7 linked regions of the Homo sapiens genome follow. The protein of the gene in region 1 purifies or fractionates together with the protein of each later gene. This does not show direct contact. Each region holds a gene or a part of one and is shown in the gene's direction. Other genes may lie near its edges. The genes, in order: NEU2, TFAP4, TBC1D4, KLHL24, NOSIP, PEX14 and KIAA1671.

Region 1 (4,280 bases):
CTTGTTATCATATTTGATTCTTTCCTGCTGACATTTTCTAACAGCGTTTCAGCATAGGCCTCCCGATACCTATCAAGGCCTGTGTCCTTGGATTATAATTTGGTGATTCTATCACCAAGCCATGAATCTCCCACCGAAGTTCAGGGAATAGCACATTTTTTCCTTGTGCAGCTTTTGCCCTTCTCAGTTTTATTTTCTCACATCGTCCTAATATTAACGTTCACTGTGGTTGAATGAAAGACTGATAGATTACATTTATTTCTCAAAGAAGCTAAGTTTTAAATAGATAACGCATGCATGTGGTAGAAAAATGAGAGCAGTACAAAAGGGTGCACAAAGGCAAACCTTGCCCCTCTTGCTGGCCTCTTGCCCACTTGCCCTCTGCAAAGGCTGTGTCTCAGACGGGGTGCCCAGGACGCCGGCTCTGACACGGAGACCCACGGCAGGCAAGAGCCTCTGGGGGAAAGGGAGGAGCAGCAGAGAAAGAGGCGGCTGTAATGCAGTCTCAGGGAAGGCCCAGCCGCCCGGAGGGAGCTCCGGAGCCGCACTGTTCCTGGTCAGGAGTTCAGGAAGAGGGTCTTCAGGCTCTGAGTGGACCAATCATCAAGCAGCCCTTCTTGGGTATGACCTGGGGCAGATTCTTCATCTGGGAACAACTGGCCCATCCTCCCCAGGCCAGGGCCCTGCAGCCAACACTCCCCAGAGCTGCGGGATGCATCCTCCTAAAGGGACCTAGGCAGCTTAGCCCGAAAATCACTGTCACCCACTGTCCCCAAGTTACCTCTGTCCCCTCCCTACCCTTTTTAGCTGAAGACTTATTTTTAATTGTTATTTTCTTAGACCTCTGGAGCACCCCACGCCCCCAGCCTGGGTTAGCTGTCAGGAGCCCCTGTCTCTTCCTTTCCCACTGCAGCGCCGCCCCCTCGCTGCCTCAGGGGGAGCCCACGCAGCAGCGGGGGCAGACGGGCCTCAGCCTCAGGCAGCCTGGGGAGCAGAGCCTTAGAAGCCATGCTTTTTCTTTTTCCTTTTCTTTGAAACAACTTTCTAGGGCTCTGGAGTTATAAAAAGCTCCCATGTGTCACTTTCTGGCATTTGGGCAGCTGCCGAATGCCACCCGGCCTGCACTGCTGTCCTCCCGAGGTTTGCCCCTGGATTGATGGGCTGGGTTTGGCAAAAGCAGCTGGAGGTTATCGAAAATCTGTTGTAAGGAGCATTGTTAACTTAGAATAAAAATCGAATCCAAAACACGCTTTTGCAATACCCCCTCCCGATATCCACCGAGGCAAAGGCAGAATTAAGAAGCAGGGTCTTGAGATGTAGGAAAGGAGAATGAACCCCACGCGGGAAGAGGACAGGCCGCCCTGACTTTGGTCCACTCAGCCAGGGGGTGAGCACCACCTGTCTTGGTGAATGACTCTGAGCCCATCTCAGGTGTGGCTGCAGGTGACACATCTTCTCTTCCTGTCCACCCCCCAGCCCCATGGCGTCCCTTCCTGTCCTGCAGAAGGAGAGCGTGTTCCAGTCGGGAGCCCATGCCTACAGAATCCCTGCCCTGCTCTACCTGCCTGGGCAGCAGTCCCTGCTGGCCTTCGCGGAACAGCGGGCAAGCAAGAAGGATGAGCACGCAGAGCTGATTGTCCTGCGCAGAGGAGACTACGACGCACCCACCCACCAGGTTCAGGTGAGGCAGGAGGTGTCTGCACTGGCTCCCCAGGGCTCTGCCACACCCTTTGCTGCTGTGATCAGGGGCCAGTCCTGGATCTCAAGAAATACAGGGACAACTTTATCCCTCAATGGCTGTACTCCGGAGGAGAGATAGAGCAGAGAAAGTGCCCCTAATGGTTCCCTGGACCTCTGGGTTCACTGTGAATTAGTCCAGCTGGCCTCCATCTGTTTTCATGAAAGATTGAATGAGTTGCCCAGCATCCGTGATGACCTCACGGAGGAATAGTTCAGTGTTGCATAATGGAGGGTTGTGTCCTTTGAGTAAAATTAACTTGGGGACTTGGGGTGGGGTGATGGCTTGTGTCCTAAAGTCCCATTTTATAGATTAAATAATTAATCCTGATGACAGCACCCAAGGCTGGCTGATCATATTTGAAGAGTTTAATATTATTATCATTCCTTTGTGGTCATTACTACACAGCTGTTCAAAGCATGGGATTTGAAGCAGATGGACCTGGGTTCAAGTCCTGGTTCCGCCACTGACCACAGATGTGGCCTAGGCAACTCCTCCTCCCTGTCGCGGTCTCTTGCTCACTGTAATAATGGAGCTACTAACACCTGTTCCCTGGGGATTGAGGCATTAGATGAGACCATGGATGTTAGACTTTTGGTGCTGTGTCTGTGCTTAGAATTGCCCAATGGGGGTAGCTGTTAATAAATGGGGACAGACAGCACATGTGACATAGACTTGGGGATTCTGGAAGCTCAATGTGACTCCTCCTTGGCTACATGAGTAGGATATGGAGTGTAGAAGGTGAGAGGTGACCGTCACATTCTGTCTTGTACTGGTCAGGTTATTGCACCTTCCGCCAGGGCTTTGCTATTCAAGGATGGTGAGCTGGACTGGGGTGGGAAGTGGAGGAACCAGGATGAAGTTGGGAATGGCTCATGCACGAGTCATCTTCATATCTTGTGGTCTGGCAGGTGGGTGTTCTGTAAATGCATATTGATGGCAATGGAAGGAACAGAATCACTCAGCCGAGTGTGGCTGCCTTGGAGGGGTGAGGTGGCACCCTGGGCCCCGCAGCTCTGGGGAAACGTTGCAAGGAGGATATGAGTGTTGGGTGAAGAGTTCTTCTCGATGACTTTTGACTCTAACCCGGGAGACACACCCGTGCCCACCCCTCCCACTCATGCAGCTCCTGGCACCATCCCCAGCTGTTTCAAGGCTGCCTTCTTCTTTCTCTCTCCCTACTCAGTGGCAAGCTCAGGAGGTGGTGGCCCAGGCCCGGCTGGATGGCCACCGGTCCATGAACCCATGCCCCTTGTATGACGCGCAGACGGGGACCCTCTTCCTCTTCTTCATTGCCATCCCTGGGCAAGTCACGGAGCAACAGCAGCTGCAGACCAGGGCCAATGTGACGCGGCTGTGCCAAGTCACCAGCACTGACCACGGGAGGACCTGGAGCTCCCCCAGAGACCTCACTGATGCGGCCATCGGCCCAGCCTACCGGGAGTGGTCCACCTTTGCAGTGGGCCCGGGGCATTGTTTGCAGCTTCACGACAGGGCCCGGAGCCTGGTGGTGCCCGCCTACGCCTACCGGAAACTTCACCCCATCCAAAGGCCGATCCCCTCTGCCTTCTGCTTCCTCAGCCATGACCATGGGCGCACGTGGGCGCGAGGGCACTTTGTGGCCCAGGACACCCTGGAGTGCCAGGTGGCCGAAGTCGAGACTGGGGAGCAGAGGGTGGTGACCCTCAACGCGAGAAGCCACCTCCGAGCCAGGGTCCAGGCCCAGAGCACCAATGACGGGCTTGATTTCCAGGAGTCTCAGCTGGTGAAGAAGCTGGTGGAGCCGCCGCCCCAGGGCTGCCAGGGGAGCGTCATCAGCTTCCCCAGCCCCCGCTCGGGGCCTGGCTCCCCAGCCCAGTGGCTGCTCTACACTCACCCCACACACTCCTGGCAGAGGGCCGACCTGGGTGCCTACCTCAACCCGCGACCTCCAGCCCCTGAGGCCTGGTCAGAGCCGGTACTGCTGGCCAAGGGCAGCTGTGCCTACTCAGACCTCCAGAGCATGGGCACCGGCCCTGATGGGTCCCCCTTGTTTGGGTGTCTGTACGAAGCCAATGATTACGAGGAGATTGTCTTTCTCATGTTCACCCTGAAGCAAGCCTTCCCAGCTGAGTACCTGCCTCAGTGAGCCTGTGGTGCCCACCTCAAGGGCCTGCCTTTCACCTGCACACCCAGCTCGGAGGCTCTGCGGCTGCCTCTCCTTCCCGTGGCCCCTGGACGTGGGGGCCACTCTGGGCTCCCTTCGGCGCCCGTGTGTGGAGAGAGGTGCACCTCTTGCTCTTTTCCTCCTGCGTGGTTCCAGTCTTCCCAAAAGGTTCTATTTTCAGCCCAGAAACCAAAAGTGTCTGGCTTCCCATAGCCCCTCCATAGGGAAGGCGTGGAGGGTCCTGCAGCGCAGCTGTCACCTTGTCTGCCTGTCCCCTACCCCCAGCTTTGTGTAGGTCTTGACAAATTTCTAGTTCAACTCCTTCCTTCTTGGGAACCATTCCTTATGTTCCTGGGGAAGAACTGAGATGGAAGACCATGGTGTAAATTAGCAGAG
Region 2 (3,500 bases), on another chromosome or scaffold:
TAGTAGAGATGGGGTTTCACCATAGTGGTTGGCCAGGCTGGTCTCGAACCCCTGACCTCAGGTGATCTGCCCACCTTGGCCTCCCAAAGTACTAGGATTACAGGCATGAGCAACTGCGCCCAGCCACTGAGTCTTAAAAGCAGGTATATGGGCAGGTATATGGTAGTCTCCATCCATATCTTGTGTTTTGTTTGTTTGTTTGTTTGTTTGTTTTGAGATGGACTCTCACTCTGTCGCACAGGCTGGAGTGCAGTGGCGCAATCTCGGCTCACTGCAACTTCTGCCTCCGGGGTTCAAGCAATTTTCCTGCCTCAGCCTCCTAAGTAACTGGGACTACAGGCCCGCTCCACCATGGCCGGCTAATTTTTGTATTTTTAGTACAGACGGGGTTTCACCATTTTGGCCAGGATGGTCTCGATCTCCTGATCTTATGATCTGCCCGCCTCGTCCTCCCAAAGTGCTGTGATTTCAGACGTGAGCCACCGTGCCCGGACTCTCCATCTGTATCTTTTTTTTTTTTTTTTTTTTTTTGAGGCAGAGTCTCGCTCTGTCGCCCAGGCTGGAGTGCAGTGGTGCAATCTCGGCTCACTGCAAGCTCGGCCTCCCGGGTTCACGCCATTCTCCTGCCTCAGCCTCCCGAGTAGCTGGGACTACAGGCGCCCACCACCACGCCCGGCTAATTTTTTGTATTTTAATTAGAGACAGGCTTTCACTGTGTTAGCCAGGATGGTCTCGATCTCCTGACCTCGTGATCTGCCCACCTCGGCCTCCCAAAGTGTTGGGATTACAGGCGTGAGCCACCGCGCCTGGCCTCTGTCTGTATCATAAAGCTCCTAGGCCTGGCTCGGTGGCTCAAGCCTGTAATCCCAGTGCTTTGGAAGGCCAAGGGGAAAAAATCATTTGAGCCCAGGAGTTCGAGACCAGCCTGGGCAACATAGCAAGACCCCACCTCTACAAAAAATAAAAAAATTAGCCCGGCATGGTGGCATGTGCCTGTAGTCTCAGCTCCTTGGGAGGCTGAGGCAGGAGGATGGCTTGAGCCTGGGAATTGGAGATTGCAGTGAGCTATGATCATAGCACTGCACTCTAGCCTGGGTAACAGAGACCCTGTCTCTTAAAAAAAACAGTAAGACTGGGTGCAGTGGCTCACTCTTGTAACCCTAGCACTTTGGGAGACCAAGGCGGGAGGATCACTTGAGCCCAGGAGTTCGAGACCAGCCTCAGCAACATGACGAAACCCTGTTTCTACTAAAAATACAAAAAACTAGCCGGGTGTGAATGGTGTGCACTTATACTCCCAGTTGCTTGGGAGGCTGAGGAAGGAGGACGACCTGGGCCCAAGAAGTTGAGGCTACAGTAAGCCGAGATCATGCCATTGCACTCCAGCTTGGGTGACGGGAGTGAGACCCTGCCTCTAAATAAATAAATAAAAATAAATTAAAAAAATAATAAAACTTAAAAAGCTCCCATAAGAAGGAGTTCAAGAAAATTGAAGGCTTTGGAGTGTTTATTGGGTCCCTGATTTATTTATGAAGCAACAACATTCTGCCGGGACTGAGGATACAGCCATGAACAGGATGTGACTCCTGTCCTCAGCAGCTCACAGCCTTGTGGTCTTAAAAGGTCTTGTAGACCCCCTAAGAGTTTCATGGGTTGTCCTGGACACCTGGGTGCAAACTAACTCTTGGGCCTCGACCTCCCGAGTAGCTGGGATTACAGGCACGTCCCACGACACCCGGCTAATTTTTGTATTTTTAGTAGAGAGGGGGTTTCACCATCTTGGCCTGGCTGGTCTGAAACTTCTGACCTCAGGTGATCTGCCCACCTTAGCCTCCCAAAGTGCTGGGATTACAGGCATGAGCCACCGTGCCTGGCCTTTCTTGATCTCTTTTAAACTTCACCATGACCCTGTGAAGTGAAGCAGTGTTTCCATATTTTACAGACGGAGGAAACCGAGGCTTGGTGTTGCACAGCTAGTAAGTGGCAAGGCTGGACTTTTTCACTTGAGCCCAGTGCAGGGTTCCCACTGATGGGCTGGAGGAGCTTTGGGGAAGGGAGGGAGGCAGGGATGTTTCTGATGGCAACAGCCTGGGCATGGTGTGTTCTGGGACCGAGGGGAAGGGCAGCAGACTGGCCAGGTCAGAGTACAGAGTATGGGTGAGTAGTGTAGAAGCAGCGGGGATGGAGCATGGATGAGAACCTCGGGCTGATTAGGTTAGAGAAGGATGAGTGCCTTAGTGCTTTTTTGGGTTTGGGAGAATCCCGTGTGGACTTTCCCACGTTGACTGTGTAGATGTTAAGTGACCCTGAGGTATGTGAGTGACTTCAGGGCAGTGTGAAATGAAAGTTCTCAGTGGCCGGTTTGAGGCTGGAGCTGGGCAGGCAGGTGTAGAGGGATTGGGGGTACTTGACTTTGGCCTGGGCAGGAGGGATAGGTACCTGGCAGGGTTCTAGACTTGAAGGGCATGCCCCATGCCTCCAAGTGTCTGGTTGGGACGCCAGCGTCAGTCTCAGCAGATTCTGTGGGTGCTGTGGTGGTAGGTGTGGCGGCTCTTGCCTTAGCATCCAAGGCTGGTGCCCAAATTTTGTTCCTTGGCCATTGGCTGCTCAGTGACCTTATTCCTAAATCTAGGGCAGCCCCTGTTTGGACCCAGGAGGCTGGCTTGCAAGAAGCAAGAGAGCCTTGGTGTGGCTGGGCATGGTGGCTCATGCCTATAATCCCAGCACTTTGGGAGGCCGAGGCGGATGGATCATTTGAGGTCAACAGTTCGAGACCAGCCTGACCAACATGGTGAAACCCCATCTCTACTAAAAATACAAAAATTAGCCGGGCGTGGTGGTGGGTCCCTGTAATCCCAGCTACTCGGGAGGCTGAGGCATGAGAATTGCTTGAACTCGGGAGGTAGAAATTGCAGTGAGCTGAGATTGTGCTACTGCACTCTAGCCTGGGCAACAGAGCGAGACTCCATCTCAACCCCCCCTCCGCCCCCCATAATTAGCCAGGCTTGGTGGATCACGCCTGTAATCCCAGTTATTTGGGAGGCTGAGGCATGAAAATCGCTTGAACCCGGGAGGTAGAGATTGCAGTGAGCCAAGATTGTGCCACTGCACTCCAGCCTGGGCAATAGAGCGAGACTCAGTCAAAAGAAAAAAGAGAACCTCGGTGTTGGTGGACTTGGGTCACCTTTGATTTTCACCTGGAGGAGTCTGAAGTGGCCAGAGAGAGGATAGTGGACCTTTACTGTGTGTGTAGGACGTTTACAGACCTTAACCGTAAATGCAAAACCCCAGAAAGAGCTATCAGAAACTTTCAGGCATTTGCAGAAAAATCCACTTTATTCAGTGCAGTATCACCTGGAAATTTCAATCAACCATCCTTCATCAACAGGAACCCCTGGTTGGTCAGCCATCAGAAGCCCTGGTTGGTCAGCATTCCACCAATAAGAATTCCTGGTTAGCGGCACTCCACCAATCACAACCCCTGGTTAGCTCCTATTCCA
Region 3 (3,500 bases), on another chromosome or scaffold:
GGTTAGGGCACAGCTTGGTTTTATACACTTCAGGCAGACATGAGACATCAGTCAATATATGTAAGAAGTACCTTGGATCCGTCTGGAAAGGCGGGACAATTTGAAGCAAAGGCAGGAAGACTCAAAGCAGGGAGGGAGTTTTTAGGTCATAAACAGGTGCTATGGTTACATTCTTTTGAGTTTCTGATTAACCTTTCCAAAGGAGGCAATCAGATATGCATCTATCTCAGTGAGCAGAGGGGTGACTTTGAATAGATAGGAGGTAGGTTTGCCCTAAGCAATTTTCAGCTTGAGTTTTCCTTAGTGATTTTGGGGGCCTAAGATATTTTCCTTTCACAGGGTATTGGGACAAAAGTGCCTTTGAATATTTGTTTGTAGGCTCTTGTGTGGACATGTTTTCCAGTCTTTTAATTTTTAGGAGTGGAATGCCTAGGTAATGAAGTAGGTCTATATTTAACTCCTAAGAAACTGCCAAACCATCCTCTAGAGTGGTGTGTCATTTTATATGTCTGTGTACAATGTATGAGAGTTCAGTTGCTCCCATGTCCTTGCTGGCAGTCTTCTTTTTATCTTAGCCATTCTAAGAGGTATATAGTGGTATCTTATTGTGGTTTTAATTTGCATTTTCTCTGATAGTTAATGCTGATGAGGGATGTCTAGGTTTTAATCTCCTCATCAAAAAAGGTTATTTTGTCCTCATGGTTGGAACTTTGGTTCCTTTCAGCTGAGGCACAAATAACTTTTAAACACAATCAAAAGACATATTATGACATAATAGGTTGGCAGTGGCTTATATAGTTTCATGGTTTTGTTTCTGGGAGACTCATTTAAAGTGGGAAAATATAATCCTGCTATTCAATTTCAATTTTCATTACATTTTAATTTTATCTTGAAGTCATTTATGTCAAATAATGTAAGTGTATGCTCTGTCTCGTGTAGTGTCTATTACTTTGTATATTATTTAGGATGAAAATACATTCCATGTGGTAATAATTGGGCTAGGTAAATGTAAATTGTCTCAAAACTTTCAACTAGAATCAGGGTTTTAATTTTTTCCCCCAGGTTCCTGATGTTATTAGCAGCATAAGGCAATTATCTAAAGCGGCCATGAAAGAGGATGCCAAACCCAGCAAAGATAATGAGGACGCCTTTTACAACTCTCAGAAGTTCGAAGTCCTGTACTGTGGAAAGGTGACCGTGACCCACAAGAAGGCCCCCTCAAGCCTCATCGATGACTGCATGGAGAAGTTCAGCCTGCACGAACAGCAGCGCCTGAAGATCCAAGGGGAGCAGCGCGGTCCGGACCCAGGAGAGGACCTGGCTGACTTGGAGGTGGTGGTGCCCGGGTCCCCCGGAGACTGCCTGCCGGAGGAGGCTGACGGCACCGACACCCACCTTGGCTTACCTGCCGGGGCCAGCCAGCCTGCCCTGACCAGCTCTCGGGTCTGCTTCCCTGAGCGGATTTTGGAAGATTCTGGCTTTGATGAGCAGCAGGAGTTTCGGTCTCGGTGCAGCAGTGTCACCGGCGTGCAACGGAGAGTTCACGAGGGCAGCCAGAAATCCCAGCCGCGACGGAGACACGCGAGCGCACCCAGTCACGTCCAGCCCTCGGACTCGGAGAAGAACAGGACCATGCTCTTCCAGGTACACCTGATCGGACGCTGTCTGCCCTTGCCCCAAAAGGTGCCAGATGGAAGTAGCTGGGCATCCAGTTCCTCCCAGCTCCACCTCTATATAACGAATAATCTAACTTTTATTTGTTTTCCCCTTCAAAGCAGATAAGGCAGGTGGAGGAAGAGTGCAGAGGAAAGTAGGGAAGGGGGGAGAGGCAGACGTGGAGTGTGGAGTATAAGAATTAAGGGAGTAGGGAAGGAAGAGGAGGAGGAAGCAATTCGTAGAACGTCCTGGACACCTGGTAGAGAGAATAAGAATCTATAACCAGCATTTGCCTTGGGGTGATTCTCAAATAAATGCTTAAAAAAAAATTGTAGGCCCGGCGCGGGGGCTCACGCCTGTAATTCCGGCACCTTGGGAGGCCAAGGTACGCGGATTACTTGAGGTCAGGAGTTCCAGATCAGCCTGGCCAACATGGCAAAACCCCGTCTCTATTAAAAAACAAAAATTAGCCGGATGTGGTGGGGGCGTGCCTGTAATCCCAGCTAATCAGGTGCTGAGGCGGGAGAATTGCTTGAACTGGGGAGTCGGAGGTTGTAGTGAGCTGAGATTGACCCCCTGCACTCGAGCCTGGGCGACAGAGCGAGACTCCATCTCAACAACAACAAAAAAATTGTAGAAAGTAAATCTTTAAAGATATGAATCTGAGAGAGTGCGATTTGGCATGGAGAAACAAGGGACTTTTTTTCTAGAGAAGAAAAAACTCCAGAGACTTGTATTTGTATTTTGAGTCGAGGACACACCAATTTATGCTGTCACACCAAAAGACGTTAAAGAAACATCATTGGCCTAAAAATGTACTGAATTGGATACTAAAATAATTTGATGCAAGCTGTAGTATTGGTATAAAAGATCATTCTTAATTCTAAACATTTTTGAATGTTGTACAGGGTATAGAAGGTGTCAGGTTCCGCTTAAAATAACTTAATTCCTAACAATACTCTGTAGAGAGTCTTTAATTCTCAGCTTGTGAGATTTGAGTTTCCTTGGGGGGAAAGAAAAGAGTGACTGTCTTTTTTAAACCTATTTTAAAGATTTCCTAAGAAGGAGATTCCGGAGTATTTTGGTAAATAGTACCGGTGTGTAATATCAGAAGTTTGCTTTATCGGAAGTTCATGAGGCTTTTTTTCACAAATGATAATATTTTATTATAGAAAAAGCATCCCAAATGCAGGATTTCATAAACACTCGTAGGTGAACAAGTACAGCTTCAAAAGTAAATTCAGAGTAAAGAGGCAACACTTACAAACATTTTGCCTTAAGGAGAAAATGTGATGTTCTCCTGCAGAAGTAATCCCACACAGAACACAAATGTGGCTCCATATCATGAAGGCATCAGATTTGCTTTCTGAGCTCAGTATGCCCATTTCAACAATTGAAAATGATGGCAAGAAGTAGCATTGAATATATTACTACTTGATTAAAAAAAAACACACCCCTGATTAAAAAAAAAAAATTAAGAGACAGGGTCTCGCTCTGTCATCCAGGCTGGAGTGCAGCAGTGTGATCACAGCTCACTACAGCCTTGACCCCTGGAAGTTCATATTTTTTCTTTTTTGTTGGTGGTGGTTTTGTTTTTAATGAACTCAAGGTATGTCATTAAAGCCTCTCTAGTCTTTGGTGATGTATTAACTGAATTTCCCCTTTTCTTGGGGTTATCAGATTTGTTCTTTTTTTAGTTAGTCACAGTCCTTGTTGTTAATTTTTCTGAATGGGTTATTTTCAAAGATTTTAATTCATTAGCCCAATTACAGATACATCCTTTTGCTGACCATTTAGAAGAAAGTATGATTATAACTTATTTTTTAAAATTACTATTTTTAGAA
Region 4 (4,292 bases), on another chromosome or scaffold:
ACACACACATACACACACGATGGATTATCTGATGGGTTTGATTATATGGAGTTGTATTGAAAGCATTTTATCGTTTTAGAAAAACTAAGAGGACATTGTGATAGATCCATAATAAAATAAGCAAAGAAAGAGGATAATTATTAAAACTCCAAGGAAAACCAAAAGCCATACAAGATGGGAAATTGTATACGATTTGTCTCAACAATGAATAATAAATACATGGTCTCATTAGCGTAAACATTAATGATTTAACCAGATTATGAGAAGGATAGCTTCCTTAATAGGAAATAGTCATACATTATTTGGAAATATATAAATACCAGAAGAAATAGCTCAAATAATTGAATAAGAGATGGAAAAGAGGCCTAAAAAGTATGTTTAAAAGGCCTGTATATAGGCCTTCCATATTATTTCCGCCTCTGGTCATCAGAACACAACGCCTAATTTAATAGAGGCATGACGGTATTCATGACATGTAGAAGATAGAGATTTTTAAATTTGGTATCAGAAACCAAAAACTAGTTAAATGGTTGCAATCATCCTTTAAAAGAATACCTGCAGGCGGGGCGCAGTGGCTCATGCCTGTAATCCTAGCACTGTGGGAGGCCAAGGCAGGCGGATCACTTGAGGCCAGAAGTTCGAGACCAGCCTGGCTAACACAGCCTCTACTAAAAATACAAAACATTACCTGGGCGTGGTGGCGGGCACCTGTAGTCTCAGCTACTCGGGAGGCTAAGGCGGGAGAATCGCCTGAACCCGGGAGGCAGAGGTTGCAGTGGGCCGAGATTGCGCCACTGCACTCCACCCTGAGTGGCAGAGCGAAACTCTGTCTCAAAACGAAACAAAACAAAAAGCTTGCAGACACAAAACGACAACACAATGTCCTTTAGGAACTCCATCTACCTTGGAAAACAGGGATTTGTGACAGCTTTGGTCGACGTGCATGTGCGTTTAAAATAAAAAGGTAACCTAGGATTTGATACCAGGGACAGTAACAGCTTTATCAAAAAAAAAGAGGTGGTTTTCCTTGCTCCTTCTAAGGACTGGGGTTTTAGTCTCGTCCACCCTGCAGGCCCTCAGGCCTGATTTCCGATTGTCTATCAAAGGGTCAAATAAAAAGCTCTCTAAGCTTCGACCCAAGCTTTAAAGTCGAAGGGCTGATCGCGGGCTTTTTCCTTGGGACGTGGCAGGGGCCTTTGAGGGAAGGAAAGAAACGACTCTGGCTTCTCACTCGGCTCCTTACACAAGAGGCATTTTTTTAACTGTCTCTGCTTAAAACAAGGTGTTTTTGAGTCAGCAGCCCTTTGGGTGGGTCTCGTCCTCTTGGGCACCCGACACCCACCCCACGGCGGGAGCCCCAGGTGGCCCCGGAGGCCACCGGGAAGCGTGAACTACATCTCCCAGGGTTCCCCGGGGCGGAGGACGCCCACCCGGATTGGCCAGGGTTCGCTGACGCTCAGTGTTTTGGCCCGGACGGTCACATGTTTCCTTTGTTGTGAGCTGCGGCAGAGACTGGTGGCTGGAGGAGACGCCGGCGCTGGAGAGTGCGCTGCGCCGCCCGCCGCTGAGGGACCGCGGGGTTAGCCACTGCTGGCTGCTTCCAGTGTTCGCCGAGAGGTACCGGGGGTGACAGCTCCGGGACCGGCCGAAAGGCGAGGAACCGGTCAGAGTCTGAGTCCTCGGGGGCGGAGGGGCGACGGCGGTCCTGACCACCGGGGTGTCTGCGGGAGGGCAGCCAGCGGCGGCCGGCCTCTCAGAGCCAGACTGGCGGTCTGCGGAGAGGCTGCAGCTGGGCTACAGGGCCCCTTTCTGAGGCGAGGGGCCTCCAGGGTTCACCTGGGGGGTCTTCCTCCCCCGCTTGGTAGCTACAGCCCTGAGGGAGGGCGCGCGCGCCTCCTGGCACTACGGCCCGGAACCGCGGCGCGGCTGGTGCGGCCTGGCTAGGGCGGGGTGGTTGCCGGGACTGGGGGTAGCCGCAGGTGCGGTAGGCTAGTCGCCGCGGGGCCGGGCGCCGCCGGGGGAGGCGGCTGGGCAGACGGGTGCTGCTTGTTGCCGATGGGCTGCGAACGGGGCGCTGCTTTTTATTTCAGGAAGCCCGGGGGAGTGCGACCGCCTCAAATCCAGCCTTCTTGTTTGGTGGGACGACCGTCGGTTCTGTCCGGGAGGAATGACGGGGTCAAGGTGGGGTCCCCAGGGCCGCGGGCCCGTGAAGCCCCATTAAAGCGATTGCGAAATGCACTCGGCACTGTCACCTGACCGTTACCCCCGCCCCCGTCCCCTGCGAGCCTTTGTTTACCACGATCGCGACACCCGGCCCGCTGCGGCCGTCCCCGGGGAGCCGGGGCGGGCGGGGGAGCGGGCGTTCCGCCGGCGCAGTCCCCGCCTAACCTCCCCACCTTCTTACCACTCCAGGACTCAGTTTCTTAATTTAGTTCCTAATGGACCCGCCCTCAAGTTCTGGACACCCCGGGTGAAGACTGTTAACGCGGCGGGGATTGGGCGCCTGCGGCAGCTTGTGGGCGGTACCCGAGGGAGAGTTCGAGTTTTTATTGGCGAGTTTTTATTGTCACTAGGTGGGCCTGCCCTGGGCCATTCTTCCCGCCCCCTTGAAGGTGATCTGGAGGACGCGCGGGAGCGCGCGCTGTCGCTGCTTTTGCAGCTGCGGCCCGAGTGGAGCCGGGTGGCGCGGGTGCGGGAGGCGCGCGCTCCCGCCCCTGCTGCGGGCGGCTGGTAGCCTCGGTGGCCGCCGCCGCCGCTGCTGCTGCCTGATCCTGCAGGCAGTTCTGGGCACGCAGAGATCGGCTACCGTGGCCTGCCCTCCGAGGACCGGAAAATTAACACCCTTTAACTAGTGTCGCGTTATCTGCCGGGTGGTTCGCAGGAAGTCCTGCGAACACGTTGTTGCCAGTTCTGTAAACGTGTTTAGATAGCTAAATATAGATCACAGTGCCACATCTTAGGGGGCCCCACGGTCACCCCTGAGGCAGTGGCTGTTCACAATTGATTTTAGTGGATTTTAATGATTAATCACTTGCTCTTGTGGGCAGCTTTTCAAAAATCACGTCTTTGTATTTGCAGCTACAGACTGGGTCCACCAGCTAAGAGGTTGGTTTTTATTAGGGTTGTAAAATAGATTTAAAATCTGCTTGTTGTTGGCTGAGATTTAAAAGCAGATTTCTACTATTTAAAAAAGATAGTTTGAAGATACTCCCCTAAAAAGTAAAGATTCTTCCATACTCGGCTCGGATGAGTTGTTTTCCTTGTTTGAGGGATTCTAGGTCACACACTTCTATGTTTTAATTCCCGTGGTAATTCAAAATGTTTGAGAAGTGGGTTGCGACTGTGTCGTTTTAAAATTGTACATTAAGCTGACGGTAATAAAATCTTCAAGACCAATCATTTTTAGCCATAGTGTGTTGAAAATGGTTTTTCTAATCGCTTGAGTTAATAGGGTATTTGCGTTTTGTCAGATTTTCTTCTGCAGATATAGGAATTCACTCAAGACTTAATACACTTGTTTTGTTTTTGAGACAGGGTCTCACATTCTGTCACCCAGGCTGGAGTGGAGTGGTCTCACTCCGTCACCCAGGCCATCTCAGCTCACTGCAATCTCCGCCTCCCGAGTTCAATCGATTCTCCTGCCTTAGTTTCCCGAGTAGCTGGGATGACAGGCGCCCGCCACCACGCCCGGCTAGTTTTTGTATGTTTAGTAGGGACGGGGTTTCACCATGTTGGCCAGGCTAGTCTTGAACTCCTGACCTCAGGTGATCCGCCCGCCTCAGCCTCCCAAAGTGCTGGGATTGCAGGCGTGAGCCACCGTGCCTGGCAAAGACAATACATTTTTGTAGAAGGAAGTTTGAGCTCCCCTGGATGAAGCAGGAATTGAATATGAACAGTTCCTATTGGTTATGCATTCTTTAAAATTCCAGAGGAGATGGTTACACCGGAATGAGCATCTCCTGTGATCAGAACCGCCTCATCACTTGTGCATTGAGAGTATTTAATGTATCTAAATGAGTACAAAATGCAATCGTCTAACCTTTTGAAAAAGTAAAACCATCACTCAGTAAAGGCTTGCTTATTCAAACAAAGCCAGCAACCTAAGTCTCTAAACAGGAAGAAGAAATAAATTCTGCGTTAAGGCTGACTACCAGCTTTAACTTAAACTTTCCTGGCTTTTGTCCAAGTTGTTGAACCTTAATGCTTTTTCAATAACTTTTTTTAACTTCCTTTTCTCCCATTTCATTAAAACCCAAAGGTCAAGCCTGTGAAAAATAAATACTATTAATCAA
Region 5 (3,500 bases), on another chromosome or scaffold:
CCCATCTCTGTCCCCAGCGGCCTCGGGCTATGGGACCCAGAACATTCGACTGAGCCGGGATGCCGTGAAGGACTTCGACTGCTGTTGTCTCTCCCTGCAGCCTTGCCACGATCCTGTTGTCACGTGAGCTGGGAACAGGGATGGGTAGGTCTGGGTGGGGAGAGCAAGGGAACCGCCAGGAGGAGGCTGTGTGCGTGGGTCTGGCCACCTGCACAGCCAGGGAACCCTGGATGAGCAGTTTATCCTCAGAGCCTCTGTATTCTCACATGGGACATGGGCATGATCCTAGCATCTGTTTCATAGTGTGGAACATATGGAAAGGAACATACTTCTAATGGGGTGTAGGGCTCTCAGAGCATTGCCGAGGCCATCGGAGCAGCTCACCTTTGGACACTTCCCATGACCTACCTCTGATGGTAGGGCAAAGGCTTAACAGGTGCTGAGTCCAGGCACTAAATACGTGCTCAATTAGTGGTATATTTTGTAGAAGACAGTAATTAATGATCAGGGCCCCCAAGGCCACCTTCAGGTTTCTTTTTTTTTTTTGAGACAGAGTCTTCACTTTGTTGCCCAGGCTGGAGTGCAATGGGGACATCTTGGCTCACTGATATCCCAGGCTCAGGTGATCCTCCTGCCTCAGCCCCCACGAGTAGCTGGAACCACGGGTGTGCACTACCACACCTGGCGTTTTTGTTTGTTTTTTGTAGAGAGGGGAGCTCACTTTGTTGCCCAGGCTGGTCTCGAACTCGTGGCTGCAACAATATGTGGCACACATTGTTGCTGAGAGAATGAAGCACTTTCCCTGCAGCTCTATTGGGAGAGGACAGCTGGAAGCTCAAATCTAGTCTCTACTAGATTCTGCCCCATGTGCCTTTTTCCTTTGCTGATTTTAATCTGCATCCTTTCACTGCAGTAAACTATCACCATGAGTATAACAGCTTTGCTGAGTTCTGTGAATTCTAGCAAATAATTGAACTTGGGACTGATCATGATGACTTCTGCCTATAATCCCAGCACTTCGGGAGGCCGAGGCGGGAGGATCACTTTCTTTCTTTCTCATTGCACCCTGTCTTTGCAGCCCAGATGGCTACCTGTATGAGCGTGAGGCCATCCTGGAGTACATTCTGCACCAGAAGAAGGAGATTGCCCGGCAGATGAAGGTGATGGGGATGGGGAGGAGGCGGCACACGGAGGCAGGAGCTTTTGAGTCTGAGCTCACAGGCAGAGCCACTCAGAGCCCTCTGATCTCAGTTCCCTCTGCCTGGTACACCATTCCCCTCCCCTGCTTCCGGCCAAATCCTTCTCACCGATTTCAGCCCAGATGCTGCCTCCTCTGAGCTCCTGCCAGTCCCCAGGATCTGCCCCAGTCACCTCTTCTCTTAGCACTTAGCATAGTTGTAGCTGTACATGTGGCTGTCTGACACATGCCCACTTTCCCTTATGGACTTCGAGTTTTCCCACCCTGTAGCTTAGGTCCTTAGTAAAGATATGCTAAATGGGTCGGGGGTGGTGGCTCACACCTGTAATCCCAGGACTTTGGGAGGCCGAGGCAGGCGGATCACTTGAGGTCAACAGTTAGAGGCCAGCCTGGCCAACATGGTGAAACCCTGTCTGTACTAAAAATAAAAAAATAAAAAAAAAAATTGAGCCGGGCATGGCGGGCGCCTGTAATCCCAGCTACTCAGGAAGCTGAGGCAGGAGAATCGCTTGAACCCATGAGGTAGAGGTCGCAGTGAGCTGAGATGGCACCGCTGCACTTCAGCCTGGGTAACCGAGCGAGATTCTGTTTCAAAAAAAAAAAAAAAAAAAAAGATGTGCTACGTGAATTGACATCACCTCATTTTTTCTGGGCCTCAGTTTCATCGTCTGTAAAACGGGCTGACGGCCAAATCAGAGGACACAGCAGGGCACCTGGGAGGTACACGCAGATGAGCATTCTCAAGGCGTGTTACTGGGAACCCGGCCTGGCCTTCCATGGACAAAGCCATTTGATGGGTAGGAGGGGCCCTGTTTGAGGCACAGTGGGTCTGTCCCCCTCTTCCCCTGCCTGGTTGCTGGCGCTCAGGAAACACTACAGGTCACATGCTTATTGGGCTTTTTGTCCCAAGCAGGTGGCTCCCCCTGTGCCCATGTCCTCCACACAGCCTGGTGGTCATGTCGGAGGCCCTCATGAGCATCCATCACTGTCACTGTTACCTCCTCACTCAGCTGGGTGGCCCAGGGTGGTCTGGAACTGCAGCACCGCCCAGGCAACTGCTGTGCGCCAGGCAGGGCTGAGCTCAGGTCATGGCTTCACTTCTCCCGTCCTCACTCACTGTCCGTCCATAGACATGGGCTCCTCAGCATTCCCTTAGATCTGAAGTCTACATCCCCCGTCCCAAACACGGGCTGGGGCATGCACTGTATAGAAAACTTAATTGGCCAGCAGGTGACATTAATTAAATGCTTAGCTGAGTGCCAGGTGAGGCTCTCCATGCTGTAAACACTCACCTTATGTAACCCTTCAGTGAGCCGCTGAGGTGGGTAACCACTGTTAGGCTGTTTTACAGATGAAGAAACTGAGGCCAGGAGAGGTCATAGTGCTCACTTAGGCCACAGAGTGACAGAGATGGGCTTTGAGCCCTGGCAGTCTGGCTATACAACGCAGTAAGGTTCACACCCACCCAGGGTGGCAGTTACCACCCTCTGCCACATAGTGCCTCCATCAGAGGGTCCCCTTTGTGGGCCTCAGTTTACCTACCTGTGAAATGGGAGGAAGATACCCCCAGCCCCACGGGCAGATGCTCAGCCCACTTTCCCCGACGCAGGCCTACGAGAAGCAGCGGGGCACCCGGCGCGAGGAGCAGAAGGAGCTTCAGCGGGCGGCCTCGCAGGACCATGTGCGGGGCTTCCTGGAGAAGGAGTCGGCTATCGTGAGCCGGCCCCTCAACCCTTTCACAGCCAAGGCCCTCTCGGGCACCAGCCCAGGTGACTCAGGTTGGGCTTCTTGTGGGTTGGGGGGCGGGGCGCCGCGGGCTGGGCGGGCCCAGGGGGCGGCATCTGAGTCCCTTCCTTCCCCCACAGATGATGTCCAACCTGGGCCCAGTGTGGGTCCTCCAAGTAAGGACAAGGACAAAGTGCTGCCCAGCTTCTGGATCCCGTCGCTGACGCCCGAAGCCAAGGCCACCAAGCTGGAGAAGCCGGTGAGCCCCCACAGCGCCCCGGCACGCACGGTGCCAGGGCGCCAGGGTTCCCCACCGTCCTCCTCACGCACAGGGACCACGCGCTCTCCACCTGCGCCAGCCCTGCCTACTGAGCCCGCCTCTCTCTGCCCCTTGCAGTCCCGCACGGTGACCTGCCCCATGTCAGGGAAGCCCCTGCGCATGTCGGACCTGACGCCCGTGCACTTCACACCGCTAGACAGCTCCGTGGACCGCGTGGGGCTCATCACCCGCAGCGAGCGCTACGTGTGTGCCGTGACCCGCGACAGCCTGAGCAACGCCACCCCCTGCGCTGTGCTG
Region 6 (3,500 bases), on another chromosome or scaffold:
TTTGTTTTTTGAGACAGGGTCTTACTCTGTCACCCAGTCTGGAGTGGAGAGGTGTTATCACAGCTCACTGTAGCCTTGACCTCCTGGGTTCAAGTGATCCTCCAGCCTCAGCCTCCCGAGTAGCTGGGACTATAGTCATGCACTATGATGCCCAGCTAATTATTTTTTGTAGAGGTCGGGTCTCGCTGTGTCGCCCAGGCTGGTCTTGAACTCCTGACCTCAAGTGAGCCTCCCACCTCAGTCTCCCAGGCTTCTTTTACTTAACACATATTTTTGAGATTCATTCATGATGAGAACAGTGACAGTTTATTATCACTGCTTTATACAGTTATTGTATGAATGTGTTTGGCCATTTATTATTAACCATTCTACTCTTTTTTTTTTTTTTTTTTGAGACAATGCCTGGCTCTGTTGCCCAGGCTGGAGTGCAGTGGTACGATTTCGGCTCACTGCAAACTGCTTCCCAGGCTCAAGCCATCCTCCTACCTCAGCTCCCCTGGTAGCTGGGACCACAGGCGCATGCCACCACACCTGGCTAATTATTTTTGTATTTTTTGTAGAGACGGGGTTTTGCCATGTTGCCCAGGCTGGTCTTGAACTCCTGAGCTCAACCAGTCTGCCCGTCTGGGCCTCCCAAAGTGCTGAGATTACCAGTGTGAGTGACCACATCTGGCCACCATTCTACTTTTTGTTTTTTGAGACTGAGTCTTGCTCTATCACCCAGGCTGGAGTGCAGTGGCATGATCTTGGCTCACTGCAACCTCTGCCTCCCAGGTTCAAGTGATTCTTCTGCCTCAGCCTCCTGAGTAACTGGGATTATAGGCACTGGCCACCATGCCTGGCTAATTTTTGTGTTTTTAGTAGAGACGGGGGATTCACCATGTTGGCCGGGCTGGTCTCGAACTCCTGACCTCAAGTGATCCACCTACCTTGGCCTCCCAAAGTGGTGGGATTATAGGCGTGAGCCCCTGCGGGTGGCCCATCTTACTTTTTTTTTTTTTTTTGAAATGGAGTCTCGCTCTGTCACCGGCTGGAGTGCAGTGGCGCAATCTCAGCTCACTGCAACCTCCGTCTCCCGGGTTCAGGTGATTCTTCTGCCTCAGCCTCCCAAGTAGCTGGGACTACAGGCATGTGCCACCATGCCCGGCTAATTTTTGTATTTTTAGTAGAGATGGGGTTTCTTCATGTTGGCCAGGATGGTCTCGATGTCTTGACCTCATGATCCACCTGCCTTGGCCTCCCAAAGTGCTGGGATTACAAGCATGAGCCACCGTGCCTGGCCTGAGCCATTCTACTTTTAATGGACATTAGATTGTTTCACCTTTAGGGTCATTACAAATAGTACTGCTGTGAAAATACCTGTACGTGTCTTTTTGTGAACATAATATGTGCATTTCTGGTGAGTTCATCTACGTTTTTTATTTTTTATGGTATTGACATGTTTGGAGAGTCTGGACTACTTGTTTTGTGAAATGTTCCACCATCTGGATTTGTCTGATTTGTTCCCTTACATTTAGATCCGGGTTAAACATTCTTTTGTGAGAATATTATGTAAGTGACGTTGTGTCTATCTGTGTATCATATCTGGAGGAACGAGTCCCATTGTCGAAGATGAAGTTTGATTGTTTGGTTAAGGTGGTGTCTATCACATTTCTCCATCATAAAGTTAACTTGCTAAATTAGTTGCTTTCTTTGCAACTTTGCTAGTATTGTTTTAAATTTTTGAGACAGGGTCTCACTCTGTCACCCTGGCTGGAGTGCAGTGGCACAGTCATGGCTCGCTGCAGTCGTGACCTCCTGGGCTCAAGTGATCCTCCTGCCTTGGCCTCCCAAAGTGCTAGGATTACAGGTGTGAACATGGCCAAGTTTTTCTTTTTTTCTTTCTTGAGATGGAGTCTTGCTCTGTCTCCAGGGTGGAGTGCAGTGGTATGATCTCGGCTTACTGCAATCTCCACTTCCCAGGTTCAAGCGATTCTCCCCCCTCAGCCTCCGGAGTAGCTGGGACTGCAGGTGTGCACCACCATGCCTGGCTAACTTTTTATATTTCAGTAGAGACGGGGTTTCACTATGTTGGCCAGGATGGTCTCAATCTCCTGACCTCATGATCCACCCGCCTCGGCCCCCCAAAGTGCTGGGATTATAGGCGTGAGCCACTGCGCCTGGCCTGGCCAAGTTTTTTTTTAGTATTTTAGTTTAATATTGTATTGACTGACAAAGTCTTATGGCCTAAACTTTACTGTGGAATTCTAATAGGTGTGTTGTGATCAGTTTGAGTTTTGACAAATTGTATATACGTGTGTAACCACTACCACCCTAAACCTGTGTAACCACCACTGCCACAAGCAAGATCAACAGTTTCAGTATCCCTAAACGTTCCCTTACGCCCCTTCCCATTGAATCCTTGCCTGTGGTCCTAGGAAATCTGAACTGTTTTCTATTACTATAGAGTATATTTGTCCCTCCTAGAATTTCATATGAATGAATTATGTATTCTTTTATGTCTTTTTTGGCTCAGAATAATGTTTGTGAAATTTATTTGTGTTATGGTATGTATCAGTAATTATCAGTAATGAATTACCTTTTTTTTTTTTTTTTTGAGATGGTATTTCGCTCTTGTTGCCCAGGTTGAAGTGAAGTGGCTCAGTCTTGGCTCACTGCAACCCCTGCCTCCTGGGTTCAAGAGATTCCCCTGCCCCAGCCTTCCAGTAGCTGGGATTACAGGCGCCCACCACCATGGCCGGCTAATTGGCTAATTTTTTTGAATTTTTAGTAGAGACAAGGTTTCACCATGTTGGCCAGAGTGGTCTTGAACCCCTGACCTCAAATGATTTGCCCACCTCGGCCTCCCAAAGTGCTGGGATTACATGTGTGAGTCACTGCGTCCAGCCAATTTTTTTTTGTTTAGTAGAGATGGGGTTTCACTGTGTTGGTCAGGCTGGTCTCCAACTCCTGACCTCATGTGATCCAACTGCCTTGGCCTCCCAATGTGTTGGGATTACAGGCGTGAGCCACTGCGCCTGACCATGAATTACTTTTTACCGCTGAGTAGTATTCCATCGTATGGATGGCTATATCTCAATTTGTTGATCTGTTCACCAGTTGATGGACATTTGTAGTAGTTTTTGATTCCTGCGTAACAGTATTACCACAAATTTAGCCGCTTGGCACAGCACACATTGATTATCTCATGGTTTCTGTGGGTCAGGAGTCAGGAAACCACTGGGCTGAGTCTCACCAGGCTACTATTGAGAAATCTGTCAGGACTGTGGTCGCTGACTAGGGAGGGGTCTGCTTCCTAGCTTGTGTGGTTGTTGGTGGCATTCAGTTCCTTATGGACCATGAGACTGGAGACTTTAGTGTGTTACTGTCAGCCAGCGGCCGCCCTCAGTTTCTTGCCAAATGAGTCTTCCCACTTGCCTCCTCAAAGCCAGCAGAAGAGAGAGTCTCTTAGTAAAGTGGACATTACCACGACGTATCTCACCCACATTAATGCAGTCACG
Region 7 (3,500 bases), on another chromosome or scaffold:
GCAGGCTGCTAGAAAAATCCAGGTGAGAGGCCAGGCGCGGTGGCTCACGCCTGTAATCCCAGCACTTTGGGAGGCCAAGGCAGGACGATCACGAGGTCAGGAGATCGAGACCATCCTGGCTAACATGGTGAAACCCCATCTCTACTAAAAATACAAAAAAATTAGCCAGGCATGGGGCAGGTGCCTGTTCTCCTGGCTACTTGGGAGGCTGAGGCAGGAGAATGGCATGAACCGGGGAGGCGGAGCTTGCAGTGAAGCAAGATCATGCCACTGCACTCCAGCCTGGGCGACAGAGTGAGACTCCGTCTCAAAAAAAAAAAAAAAAAAGAAAAGAAAAAAGAAAAATCCTGGTGAGAGACCGCGGTGCGCGGTGGACTGGACGTAGAGACCAATGGTGTTGGAGGGGTGTTCACTGACAACTTTGACATTGATCAGTGTTACATTTAGAGAGCCACTCACTTTGAAGATCCCTTCCTCAAGGTGGGTGTAACAGTCTACCTGGGGTAAGGAAACCCCTCAGAGGGAGTGGTATCAGTACTGAATTCAGTTTAGCAAACCTGCTTTAGAACCCTGTGCCTGTTCAGGGGTAGGTATAAAACATGCCAGTCCTCAAGGACTTCCTGTGGGGAGACATGGGGCACATTATTCCCATTTCACTGATGCAGGCCTCTGTGGCATTGTGAGGCGTTTGCCAGGCAGCAGTGGCAAAGCAGGAATTTGAACTCCCTTCCAACTTGCAACTAGTGAATATTTGGGTTCAGGTTAAGCCGTAGAGAAGCAACAGAGGAAGGTGGGTTTCAGTTGGGTGTGGAAGGGATAAATTGAAGGAGCCTTCCCGGAGGAGGCAGATAGAAGGGAGGGAGCCAGCCAGCCGGGCGTGGTGGCTCACGCCTGTAATCCCAGCACTTTGAGAGGCCGAGGCGGATGGATCACGAGATCAGGAGATCGAGACCATCCTGGCTAACACGGTGAAACCCCGTGTCTACTAAAAATACGAAAACAAAAAATTAGCCGGGCGTGGTGGCGGGTGCCTGTAGTCCCAGCTACCTGGGAGGCTGAGGCAGGAGAATGGCGTGAACTGGCGAGGCGGAGCTTACAGTGAGCCGAGATAGTGCCACTGCACTCCAGCCTGGGCGAGAGAGCGAGACTCTGTCTCAAAAAAAAAAAAAAAAAGAAGGGAGGGAGGGAATCAGCCAGAGATAGTCCAGGGCAAACCCTGGCCCTGCCTGCTCCTGGCTGTGGCCTTGGGCATGGTTATGGTTTTGAGACTCGACTTCCCTATCTGTAAAAAGGGCTCATGATAGGATACTCCCATTCTCAAAAGGTTCTTATGTGAGTTTACTGAAGCAGTGTATGGACAGTGCTAGGCCCCGTGTCTATGCTCTGTAAGGGGTGGTATGATTATTATCACTATAGCCTGTCATCAGGATAAGTTCCAGGTGGGTGGTGCTTTGCTCAACCTGGTGTGTGCCTGTGTGTGTTGGGGGGAGAGAGGGAGTGACCCACAGGTGATACTTGAGTCTTAAAGGATGAGTAGGAGGGAGGGCTGGGACATTCCAGGCAGAAGCAACAGCACTGGCAAAGGCATAGATCGCCTGGAGAACTGCATGCCAACTGATATACCCAGAATTCAGGATGTGCTGAATGAATAAAAGTTAGACCATGGGCAGCAAAAATTCCTTTTATACCCCAGACACTCCCTGAATTTCTAAACCTGAAGGCTTTGGCAGGTTTGGGACAGAGAGGAGGGCAGGAGCATCCCTGTCCAGGAGTTCACTCTCCTTCTTCCACTCACCCATCCAGATTATAGGAGTGTGAACCTAGATAAGCCATGTCCCCCCGGGACCTCAGTTTCTTCCTCTGTAAAATGGGAGGACTGGGGAGAATGTAGGTAAAGCACATAGTGCATCAGAGCTGCGCTGTTATGCCAGAATCTGGGCTAAGCTCTTTTGTTCCTTTTTTTTTTTTTTTTTTTTTTTGAGACGGAGTTTTGCTCTTATTGCCCATGCTGGAGTGCAATGGCAGGATCTCGGCTTACTGCAGCCTCCACCTCCTGGGTTCAAGTGATTCTCCTATCTCAGCCTCCCGAGTAGCTGGGATTACAGGCATGTGCCACCACGCCTGGCTAATTTTGTTATTTTTATTAGAGACAGGGTTTCTCCATGTTGGTCAGGCTGGTCTCGAACTCTCGACCTCATGTGATCCACCCACCTCGGCCTCCCAAAGTGCTGGGATTACAGGCACCCGGCCTTTTTTTTTTTTTTTTTTTTTAATATTTTACAACAAACCCAGGTGGTGCCTGTTTTTGAGACCCTCGACTTTACAGTTCATGAAACTGAGGCTTCAAGAGGTTATTGATGTGCTGCGAGGTCACGCAGCGGGAAAGTGGAAGAGCTGGGATTTGAACCCAAAGCTGTCTGCCTCAAAGCCATGCCCTTCCCACTTGCATGGCTCCCAACACAAGGAGGGGTGCTTCTGCCTAGTCTCACTACTCAAACTGCTGCCATTTAAGAAGAAGCTAAGGCCAAGCACAGTGGCTCCTGTCTGTAATCCCAGCGCTTTGGGAGGCTGAGATGGGAGTATTGCTTGAGCCCAGGAGTTTGAGACCAGCCTGGGCAACATAGCGAGACTGTCTCTGAAAAAACAATTTAAGACCGGGTGAGGTGGCTCACGCCTGTAATCTCAGCACTTTGGGAGGCTGAGGTGGGCGGATCACCTGAGGTCAGGAGTTCGAGAGCAGCCTGGCCAACATGGTGAAACCCCGTCTCTACTAAAAATACAAAAATCAGCCAGGCGTGGTGGTGGGGCACCTGTAATCCCAGCTACTCGGGAGGCTGAGGCAGGAGAATCCCTTGAACCCCGGAGGTGGAGGGTGTGGTGACCTGAGATCATGCCATTGCAATCCAGCCTGGGTGACAGAGCAAGACTCTGTCTCTTAAAAAAAAAAAAAAAAAGGTTAAAAATTAGTCTGGCGGTCAGGCACAGTGGCTCACACCTGTAATTCCAGCACTTTCGGAGGCAGAGGCAGGTGAATCACCTGAGGTCAGGAGTTCAAGATTAGCCTAGCCAACATGGAAAAACCCTCTCTCTACTGAAAATACAAAACAAAACAAAAAAATAGCCAGGTATGGTGGCACATGCCTGTAATCCCAGCTACTTGGGAGGCTGAGGCAGCAGACTGCTTGAACCTGGGAGGTGGAGGTTGCCCTGAGCCGAGATTGTGCCACTGCACTCCAGCCTGAACGATAGAACAAAACTTCGTATCAAAAAAAAAAAAAAAAAAGAAAAGAAAAGAAAAAAAATTAGCCTGGCAGTGTGTCAGGCTGTGTCCCATCTAATTCAGAGGCTGAGACAGGAGCATTGCTTGAGCTCAGGAGTTCGATGCTGCAGTGAGCTTTGATTGCACCACTGCACTTTAGCCTGAGACAGAGTGAGTCCTTGTCTCAAATAAATAAATACATAAATACATAAAAATTTAAAAAATTAAAATTAAAAATAAA

The links.
Region 2: the proteins of NEU2 (region 1) and TFAP4 purify together in Homo sapiens (affinity purification with mass spectrometry; 3 studies listed by BioGRID and IntAct, with this or other methods). This does not show direct contact.
Region 3: the proteins of NEU2 (region 1) and TBC1D4 purify together in Homo sapiens (affinity purification with mass spectrometry; one large-scale study listed by BioGRID and IntAct). This does not show direct contact.
Region 4: the proteins of NEU2 (region 1) and KLHL24 purify together in Homo sapiens (affinity purification with mass spectrometry; one large-scale study listed by BioGRID and IntAct). This does not show direct contact.
Region 5: the proteins of NEU2 (region 1) and NOSIP purify together in Homo sapiens (affinity purification with mass spectrometry; 3 studies listed by BioGRID and IntAct, with this or other methods). This does not show direct contact.
Region 6: the proteins of NEU2 (region 1) and PEX14 purify together in Homo sapiens (affinity purification with mass spectrometry; 3 studies listed by BioGRID and IntAct, with this or other methods). This does not show direct contact.
Region 7: the proteins of NEU2 (region 1) and KIAA1671 purify together in Homo sapiens (affinity purification with mass spectrometry; 3 studies listed by BioGRID and IntAct, with this or other methods). This does not show direct contact.

Annotation. Positions count from the first base shown.
Region 1 is NC_000002.12:233,031,192-233,035,471, forward strand, and holds NEU2 (sialidase-2), read left to right. Parts: upstream 1-1,480; coding exon 1,481-1,681; intron 1,682-2,924; coding exon 2,925-3,866; downstream 3,867-4,280. UniProt on the Homo sapiens protein: Exo-alpha-sialidase that catalyzes the hydrolytic cleavage of the terminal sialic acid (N-acetylneuraminic acid, Neu5Ac) of a glycan moiety in the catabolism of glycolipids, glycoproteins and oligosacharides.
Region 2 is NC_000016.10:4,266,524-4,270,023, reverse strand, and holds part of TFAP4 (transcription factor AP-4), read left to right. Parts: intron 1-1,819; exon of another isoform or gene 1,820-1,976; intron 1,977-3,093; exon of another isoform or gene 3,094-3,500.
Region 3 is NC_000013.11:75,360,170-75,363,669, reverse strand, and holds part of TBC1D4 (TBC1 domain family member 4), read left to right. Parts: intron 1-1,062; coding exon 1,063-1,644; intron 1,645-3,500.
Region 4 is NC_000003.12:183,634,131-183,638,422, forward strand, and holds the start of KLHL24 (kelch-like protein 24), read left to right. Parts: upstream 1-1,492; 5' UTR 1,493-1,663; exon of another isoform or gene 1,664-2,181; intron 2,182-2,404; exon of another isoform or gene 2,405-2,479; intron 2,480-4,292. UniProt on the Homo sapiens protein: Necessary to maintain the balance between intermediate filament stability and degradation, a process that is essential for skin integrity.
Region 5 is NC_000019.10:49,556,557-49,560,056, reverse strand, and holds part of NOSIP (nitric oxide synthase-interacting protein), read left to right. Parts: intron 1-17; coding exon 18-123; intron 124-152; exon of another isoform or gene 153-622; intron 623-707; exon of another isoform or gene 708-1,078; coding exon 1,079-1,160; intron 1,161-2,807; coding exon 2,808-2,967; coding exon of another isoform or gene 2,968-2,976; intron 2,977-3,063; coding exon 3,064-3,182; intron 3,183-3,320; coding exon 3,321-3,500. UniProt on the Homo sapiens protein: E3 ubiquitin-protein ligase that is essential for proper development of the forebrain, the eye, and the face. Catalyzes monoubiquitination of serine/threonine-protein phosphatase 2A (PP2A) catalytic subunit PPP2CA/PPP2CB.
Region 6 is NC_000001.11:10,481,450-10,484,949, forward strand, and holds part of PEX14 (peroxisomal membrane protein PEX14), read left to right. Parts: intron 1-3,043; exon of another isoform or gene 3,044-3,500. UniProt on the Homo sapiens protein: Component of the PEX13-PEX14 docking complex, a translocon channel that specifically mediates the import of peroxisomal cargo proteins bound to PEX5 receptor.
Region 7 is NC_000022.11:24,955,716-24,959,215, forward strand, and holds part of KIAA1671 (uncharacterized protein KIAA1671), read left to right. Parts: intron 1-3,500.